Homo sapiens: one gene and its partner. Each later gene encodes a partner of the first gene's protein in a complex. Each region holds a gene or a part of one and is shown on either strand. Other genes may lie near its edges.

What was found.
Region 2: STRIP2 (region 1) and STK24 share a complex: the UniProt entries of both Homo sapiens proteins name them as parts of the core of STRIPAK complex.

What each region holds. Positions count from the first base shown.
Region 1 is NC_000007.14:129,432,555-129,436,304, forward strand, and holds the start of STRIP2 (striatin-interacting protein 2), read left to right. Parts: upstream 1-1,877; 5' UTR 1,878-1,918; coding exon 1,919-2,047; intron 2,048-3,750. UniProt on the Homo sapiens protein: Plays a role in the regulation of cell morphology and cytoskeletal organization. Required in the control of cell shape. Calmodulin-binding scaffolding protein which is the center of the striatin-interacting phosphatase and kinase (STRIPAK) complexes.
Region 2 is NC_000013.11:98,465,381-98,469,130, reverse strand, and holds part of STK24 (serine/threonine-protein kinase 24 isoform b precursor), read left to right. Parts: intron 1-2,569; coding exon 2,570-2,755; intron 2,756-3,750. UniProt on the Homo sapiens protein: Serine/threonine-protein kinase that acts on both serine and threonine residues and promotes apoptosis in response to stress stimuli and caspase activation.

The DNA.
Region 1 (3,750 bases):
GGGACTTTCTTGGAAATTCATATCAATTCAGTTCTGTAAACGCCACACTCCCCACCCCCCACACCCAGCCCCCCGCCCCGAGACATTTTTGGTTGTCGCACTAGCGGGAGGATACTACTGGCATCTAGTGAAGAGAGGCCAGGTATTCTGCTAAGCATCCTACGATGCACAGGACAGCCCCCTACAATAAATATTCAGCCCCAATTGTCAATAGTACAGAGACTGTGAAACGCTGCGTTAAACGTACATAAATTAGGGGCATACAAAAATGAGCTAAATTTGGTCTTACTCGCTAGGAGCCTATATGTGGGTGGGGAGAGGAGTGGGACTGGAAGAGGAAAAGGAAGATGTGAAGGTACAGTAAGGAGATATTGGACCAGGGTGAGAAAACCCAAAAAGCTCCAAAGAGTGCTCTCAAACTTGCCTTGTTCTGTCGCCTATGAACTGGCAAAGGGAAAAGTGAGAGAGAGAGAGAGATGTTAAGAAAGGGACAGGGTTGTCCCTAAGGTATGGGAAGGTGGAGTAATTCCTCTAGGCCCTTTGCTTTGGGTATATCGTGGAAAATGTTAGGATTTTGGATCTAGGCAGAACTGGTTTGACACCAACACAACCTGAATGAGTTGAGGGCTAAAAGGAAAGCTTTGTGGAGGAGGAGGAGGTGACAACTAACTAGAATCTTTATGAGAGAAAAGGAATCAACCAGGAGAACAGAAGACAGTCTCCTCCAGAGAACAGCATAGGCAAGACCCTGAGACAAGATAGAATATGATACCTTGGAAACCGCAGGGAGGAATCTGCAAGTGCCGGTTTCTTCATCAGTAACATTGGATTCGTAAAAACACCCTGTCGGGGAGAGGTATGATGTGATATTTGGAAAGCGCTTACTGCAGTGCCTGGCACCAAGCTCAGTTCAACAATCCCCCAGACCCTTCCTAAAGCAACCAGGCTGGGGACAGCGATTTGGTCCCACCTGTTCCCCTGAGCCTACGTCTTTGGGGCTTCTATTACCAAGCCAGACTGTCTAAATATTTACTACAAGCTACTTTTTAAATTCAGGAGAGGGCAGATCAAACAGCCTCTTTTGCCCCCAGTAACAATGAGCCCTTAGGAAGCATCTAAGAGAGAGGAAGGAAAGAAAGGACTGGCGAGCAGGTGAGGGTGGGGGCTTGCTCTACCCTCAACATTTACACACCATGAGGAAGAGGCCCCCTACAGCAGAGAAGGGCAGATGACAGGAGCAGCCCTCGAGGGCACCACCAATTTCAGTGATGGAAAAACTCCCCCATCCCACCCTTAGACCTCCAGTCTCCCAGCCAAGCCCTAGCTCCGGGCGAGATGCGTTCTCTTCAGAAAAACGCTGAGAATTCTCAGCTTCCAGAGACAGCGAGTCCCTCGTTTCGGGCGATGTCCCTGGCCACCTGGCGGTGCCATCCCTCCCCTGAGACTAAGCGGGATATGGGACGTGTGCAGGAGCCGGGATATGGGGGGCCGGGTCGGTGGTAACAGGGAAACGGAGACTGCTGTGGAGCAGTAGGCGGAGACTAGAGCTCCGGAAAAGGTCGCTACAGGGACGGGGGTGAGAGCTGAGAGACACCGAGTGAGGAGCACAGAGATAACCCGCCTGATCTCAAGGCCCAGCTTTCGCGAGGTGTGGAGCCTGTAGCTAACCTAGGAGTCTCCGTCCGCCAGCAATGCCGCAGGACTAAAAAGATCCCCTCAAAAATCTCTTCATTGAGCCCCCACCTCCTCGAGTCCCGCTCCGGCCGGTCGAGCAGCCAATCGCCTCGCGGGGCGGGGTTGCGGCGAGCTGCCGTAACCAATAGAGGTGGAGGGGGCGGGGCCTGGCTCCCGGCGCGCGGCGGTAGGGTCGCCTCCGGCAAAGCGAGCTGAACCCTGAGGGGAGCCGCTGACCAGCAGCATGGAGGACCCCGCCGCGCCTGGGACCGGGGGCCCGCCCGCAAATGGCAATGGCAACGGCGGCGGCAAAGGGAAGCAGGCGGCGCCCAAGGGCCGCGAAGCGTTCCGAAGCCAGCGGCGGGAGTCAGAGGTGAGGAGCCCGGAAAGCTTCGGCTGGGGCCCGGAGACGCCCGCCGGCGGGAAGCGGCGGCTGAGGTGATTCGGCCTCGGCCCCGGAGCCCTCGGCGCGCTCGATCAGCCCCGCGCAGTGGGCGCCTGCGGGGTCCTAGCGGCTGAACTCTGGGCTCTTTGGCCCGGACCAGTGTCCGCCCGTCTCCTGCCGCGGGTTGGGGGCTTTCTAGCCCTCTGGCTTTCCCCCGCTGCGCGAAGATGAGCGCGGTATTGAGCGGACCAGATACTTTCCAAATATTTATCTCACTTAATCGCTGCAGCCCCCTGAAGCAGAAATTCCGATCCCAGTTTATAGACGGGGGAACAGGAGCGGAGAGGTTAAGTGACTGGCTTGAGGGGTGGGAGGCTGGAGCTCAGCCGCAGGAAAGCAGGATTGGCGAGTGGGGCAACCGCAGTCCCCCTCCCAGGCTGCCTGCGGCGGGCCCCTGGGCCAGCCGAGGGACTTCTGCCCGTTCCCTGCCCGTCCCCTTCCCCCCGTAAGTCTTAGGCCGTTTCGGGAGCGCCTTCCGCGGACATCAGGCCCCTGCCTGTGAGGGCTGAGCGAGACGGGATTCAGGCAGGGGCAGTCCTGGAGTGGCTATCTGGAGGGAGCAGTCGCAGGATACAGATAGGAGTGTGAATATTTCGATCTCTTCCTCCTCTCCTGAAAAAAGAAACCCTATCTATGAAGATGAAAGCGTTGAATTATTATCACTTCCCTATCCCCTCATTGAGGCAGTTCCCATCAGTTGGATCTGAGCGGGGATCAGAATAGACGACAAAATATCAGATGTGGCAGGGTCTGCAGATATCATCTGGTATAACCCTTTCATTTTACAGACCTAAAAAAAAGAGGAGTGACTTGCCCAAGATCAGACATCTGGCATAGTTGGTGGTCAAGAACACCAGACTTTGGAGTAGTCAGACCAGGTTTTGACTCCTAGCCCTATCATTTACTACCTGTGTGATTTTCGGCACATTACGGAACCTCTCTGAGCTCCAGTTTCTTCATCTGTAAGATGAGATTAACACTGCCTACCTCAGAAGGTTGTGATAAAGTCAAAATGAGATAATTGACTATAAAATGTTTGGCACAGTGCAGGCACAATGCATGTAATTAGTCAGTACATAGTAACTCTTAGTATATTGCTATCATCATCATCATCATCATCATCAAGTGGCAGAGCTGGTACTAGAAACCAGGTTTTTGGCATCCCAGACCTTGCCTTACCATTTGAATAGCATTTCAGTTTCCAAAGTGATTTCATGTATGCTTTACATTTTGATGTAGGTAGAGTAGGAGGAATCCATTCATTTTTTTTCAAGGTAGAAATGGAGATGAAAAGACTGGCCCAAAGTCACCACCTTGCAGAGGCAGAGAGCTCAGCCCTCCTGTCTTGCTAGATGATACCCGCCACATCATCTCCCTCCCTACTTCAAGATGAGTCTGGTCTTTTAGGGCACCCTGTACCTCCTTCCCCCACAGAGACATTGTTCTCGTTCAAATGTTTTTTTGGGGAGATGAGCCATTCATTAATTCAACAATTATTTATCGAGGACTTTCTGCCAGCCACTGTTTTAGGTGCCAGGGATATATCAGTGAACAAGATAGGGTCTTCGCCCATGGGGAGACAAATTGTGAGTAAATAAATAAAATAATTTCAGAATGATATGTTCTATGGG
Region 2 (3,750 bases), on another chromosome or scaffold:
AGGCGTTCGCAAGCAGGCGTTCGGCCGCCTGCTTATTATCTGTCCCTGAACCTGAAAGCAAGTCCTCGGGCCTCTGAGTAAAATCAAGGCAAGCGCATCACCGACGTACTCTCAGCAGAGATCGGCTTCTGCCAGGGCCTGCCTGCCAGTCACCGAGTGTGTTTAGCTGGTTGAGAGGTGCTTGGAGGTCTGGAGGTGCATCCGTCAGAGATCATGTTCAGTAGCACAATAGGGTGACCGTAGTTAATAATTTGTTGTGTTTCAAATAGCCAGAAGAGAAGATTTGGAATATCCCAGCACAAAGGAATGAGCCGTGTTTGAGGTGAGGGGGATCCCAGCTACCCGGATTTGATTGTTACACACTGTATACTTGTACCAGAAAAAATTCATATAACTATTATGTACCCTTACAAATGAGAAGGCTCTGGGTCTGTGTGGCCAGGAGACAGCATGCTTTGAAAACAGCAGTAGCTGTAATGAAATCTGAGAGGCCTGGGGGAAGCAGACAGATGTGGAATCACACAAACTTGAGAGCCACCTGTTGGTGTGGAGAACCGCTGCCACACAAGAGTCACAATTGCCACCTCTGTTCTTGCCTCTCCCCTCCTCGGTCCTCCCTCCTTGTGCCTGCTCACTCCTGTCCTCCTGTCGCTGCCACAGTTCTGGGTGCTTGCCCACCCTGTGCTCCCATGCACCTGCTTCCCTGCTCCTAGGGGCAAGAGACTGGGATCAGTTGCATTTCTGCTGATTTTTAAGATAATGCAATGCAAGATAAAGCAGAGTCCAAGTTGTAGAGGGAAGGAAAATAGTATTACTTCCAACGTCAGCTCTTCTAGACTGACCCCTTCAGTACAAGATTTAGTAGAAAGAATTTAGAACAAGACTTGCTGGCAGCTTTTCATCTTCACTGAGAATAAGGAAATAGAATATGCCGTAGGCATCATTCCCATGGACTGCTGGGCTTGGGGGCTTCCAGTAGGGATTTCTGGTACTCACTAAGGCTGCAGGAACATGGTAAGTGTATCCTCTGGATAGTTAAAGCACCCTGCAGCCACAACGATGCTTCCGCCTATGCATTTCCTTGCTGTAGAGTGAGTGTGAGAGATGTATTCGATTCTCACTGAAGTTCTTGGAATAATGATGGATTCCAGTGCACAGTGAGAACAGCAGGAAAGCTGTACCAGACTCAGGCGTGTTCTCTACCCCAGTCCCCATTCGTCTTTCGCCAGCCCATATAGGACTATGTCCTGCCTCATTGTCGGCCTCTGTCCTGTTTGGGGATTGGTGTCACATGCTGTCAATGTCTCATCAGCTGTCAAGTTCCTCTTAGGATGGCCTGGCTCTTCTCATTGACATGACACATTCAAGGAATTCATTCCTTTGCCTAACTGCTTGGTTGTGCCACAGGCCTGTGCTGGGCAGAAGGAGGTGGGGCAGCTGGACCTGAGATGTCCTAGTGGGGCCACACGGCTTCTGCAGATGTCTCCTCTGGGACATTCGGCAGAAAATGCAGACACTAGAGAGACACAGTAAATGACATCAGCAAGAAACCACCAGACAAATCCCGAATTTGGGACCTGTTTCTTTAAGTTGATGTCCCTGGGGAGACTGGGGACAGGACTGTTGTAGGTTGAAAGAGCCTTAGCGACCTGGCAGTCAGTTGTACCCCGTGGACTTTGGATCCTGATTCAGATAAACCAACCATGGAATGACAGTTTTTGAACAGCTGAGAACATTTAATTATACATGACATTAAGGAATTCGTGTTAATTTCAGGCACTGATAGGTAGTAAAAAGTCTGTATATTGGCACACGGAAATACTCGGGGGAAAATGTCATGATGACTGATTGATTTTAAAATATACTCGGGGAACACATGGACAAAGCTCGTATGGCAAAATGTTAATTAGTAAATTCATGCAATAGGTAGATGAGGATGCATTATATTAATATTTCTCAGTTCTTTGTATGTTTGAACATTTTCATAATAAACTTTTTTAAGTTCTGGGCCCCTGGTAAGGCACCTTACATGGCCACCTCCTCCTCTTCCACCTCCATTCTACAGATGAGAGAAACAGGGCTCAGAGGTTAGCTCTTTCATCTAACGTCACAGGACTTTGACTGTAGAACTGGCATTTCAACCCAGGTATCTTGAGACCAAGGTGCCCACTCTCGACCTCAGAGCTGTGCCCTAAGTTCTAAGCACTGCTGGAGGGGGTGACTCGCGAGCGTACACCCACTCCGGACTCCTCCTCTCTGCTCACCTCTCTTACTGGTCCTGCTGGCCCCCGGGACTCCACGGGGAATGCCGAATGCATCCAGCAGGAGGCGTAGTAGGAGTGAATTGATAAGCCATCTCCATGTAGAGGCAGAAAACATTTGGCATATTACAGTTTCTCCTGTTGTCTCTTTTGAAATTACAGCGAGGGCTTATGTTTTTAAATATCAGTTAAAAATACCTTTTTCAAAACCTCAGAAGTATTGAGACATGTTACCATTTTCCCCCTAAATACTGTGTATTGGAATAGATTCCTGCTTGGTGTTTGTAAAGATGCTTTTCTTGTTGCAGGCAGACATCTGGTCCCTGGGCATAACAGCTATTGAACTTGCAAGAGGGGAACCACCTCATTCCGAGCTGCACCCCATGAAAGTTTTATTCCTCATTCCAAAGAACAACCCACCGACGTTGGAAGGAAACTACAGTAAACCCCTCAAGGAGTTTGTGGAGGCCTGTTTGAATAAGGAGCCGAGCTTTGTAAGTTTCCCAGGGATCACAGCGTACCTCTTCATGTGCGGCTTGACTTGGTTGAGATACATCCTGTTGGGATTGCTTTAATCACTCTTTTCAGCTGTCTTCCTGGTATTATTCATTTTTCTTTTTCTAAGTAAGTATGATTGACTTCTTTGGTTTGCAAATACATTTTAATTTTTAAGTATTAAAAATCTCCTTATTTTCTTTTAGATTTCTGCCATCTCATACTTCATTGAATCTGAAGAATATTCTCCTTAATATTAAATGTGGAATCATAAATGTTTAATATTTATAGAAGATCAGGCCATAAACTGTTACACTGTTTTTAATAATGGCAAAGGTTAGCTGGAAACAAATGGCTAAATATGTCTTTAAAGTAAATGTTTTCACTTTCCAGGTGGCATGTGTTAGGAAACAAAAGATTAGAAAATATAACCAAGCCACCCTCTGTGCTTCTTCCCCTCCCCTTCCTGCCTACTTTCTCTTTTTAGGTTTAATAGACTCTGGCAGAGCCATACAGCAGTAACGACTGTGTGGCTTTGCCTCATTTTCTGTCTGAATTAGGACATTTCTTTGAAAGTAGTGTGTGTGTGTTGGTGTTGGAGGTAGCACCATATGTCCTTGTTTTGTTTCTGAGTTTTCCAGCAGAGTTAGCTGAAGGCTAAGCTGAGCCCCCCTTTTCTTAACTCTTATGTAAAAATGGGTGGTTACTTTTACAAGAGCACCATGGTTTCCTAATATGCCAGTTCTGGTAAAGGAATTAAATGGGTAATGCAACATTTTCTAAGTACGTCTAAGGAGATGCAGGCTGAGACCACCACACCAGTGTTTGATGACTACATCAGCATCGGGTGGTGGTGGGGCTTGTCCTGCATGCCACGATGCTCTGCATTTTATTACACGATGATGTTTCTTGCAGCCATCATGCACCAGCACCAGTGGAGATGTGTGCAGGCATGTCTTCCCATACAAAGCATGTGTCCTGTATGGGCTTATGC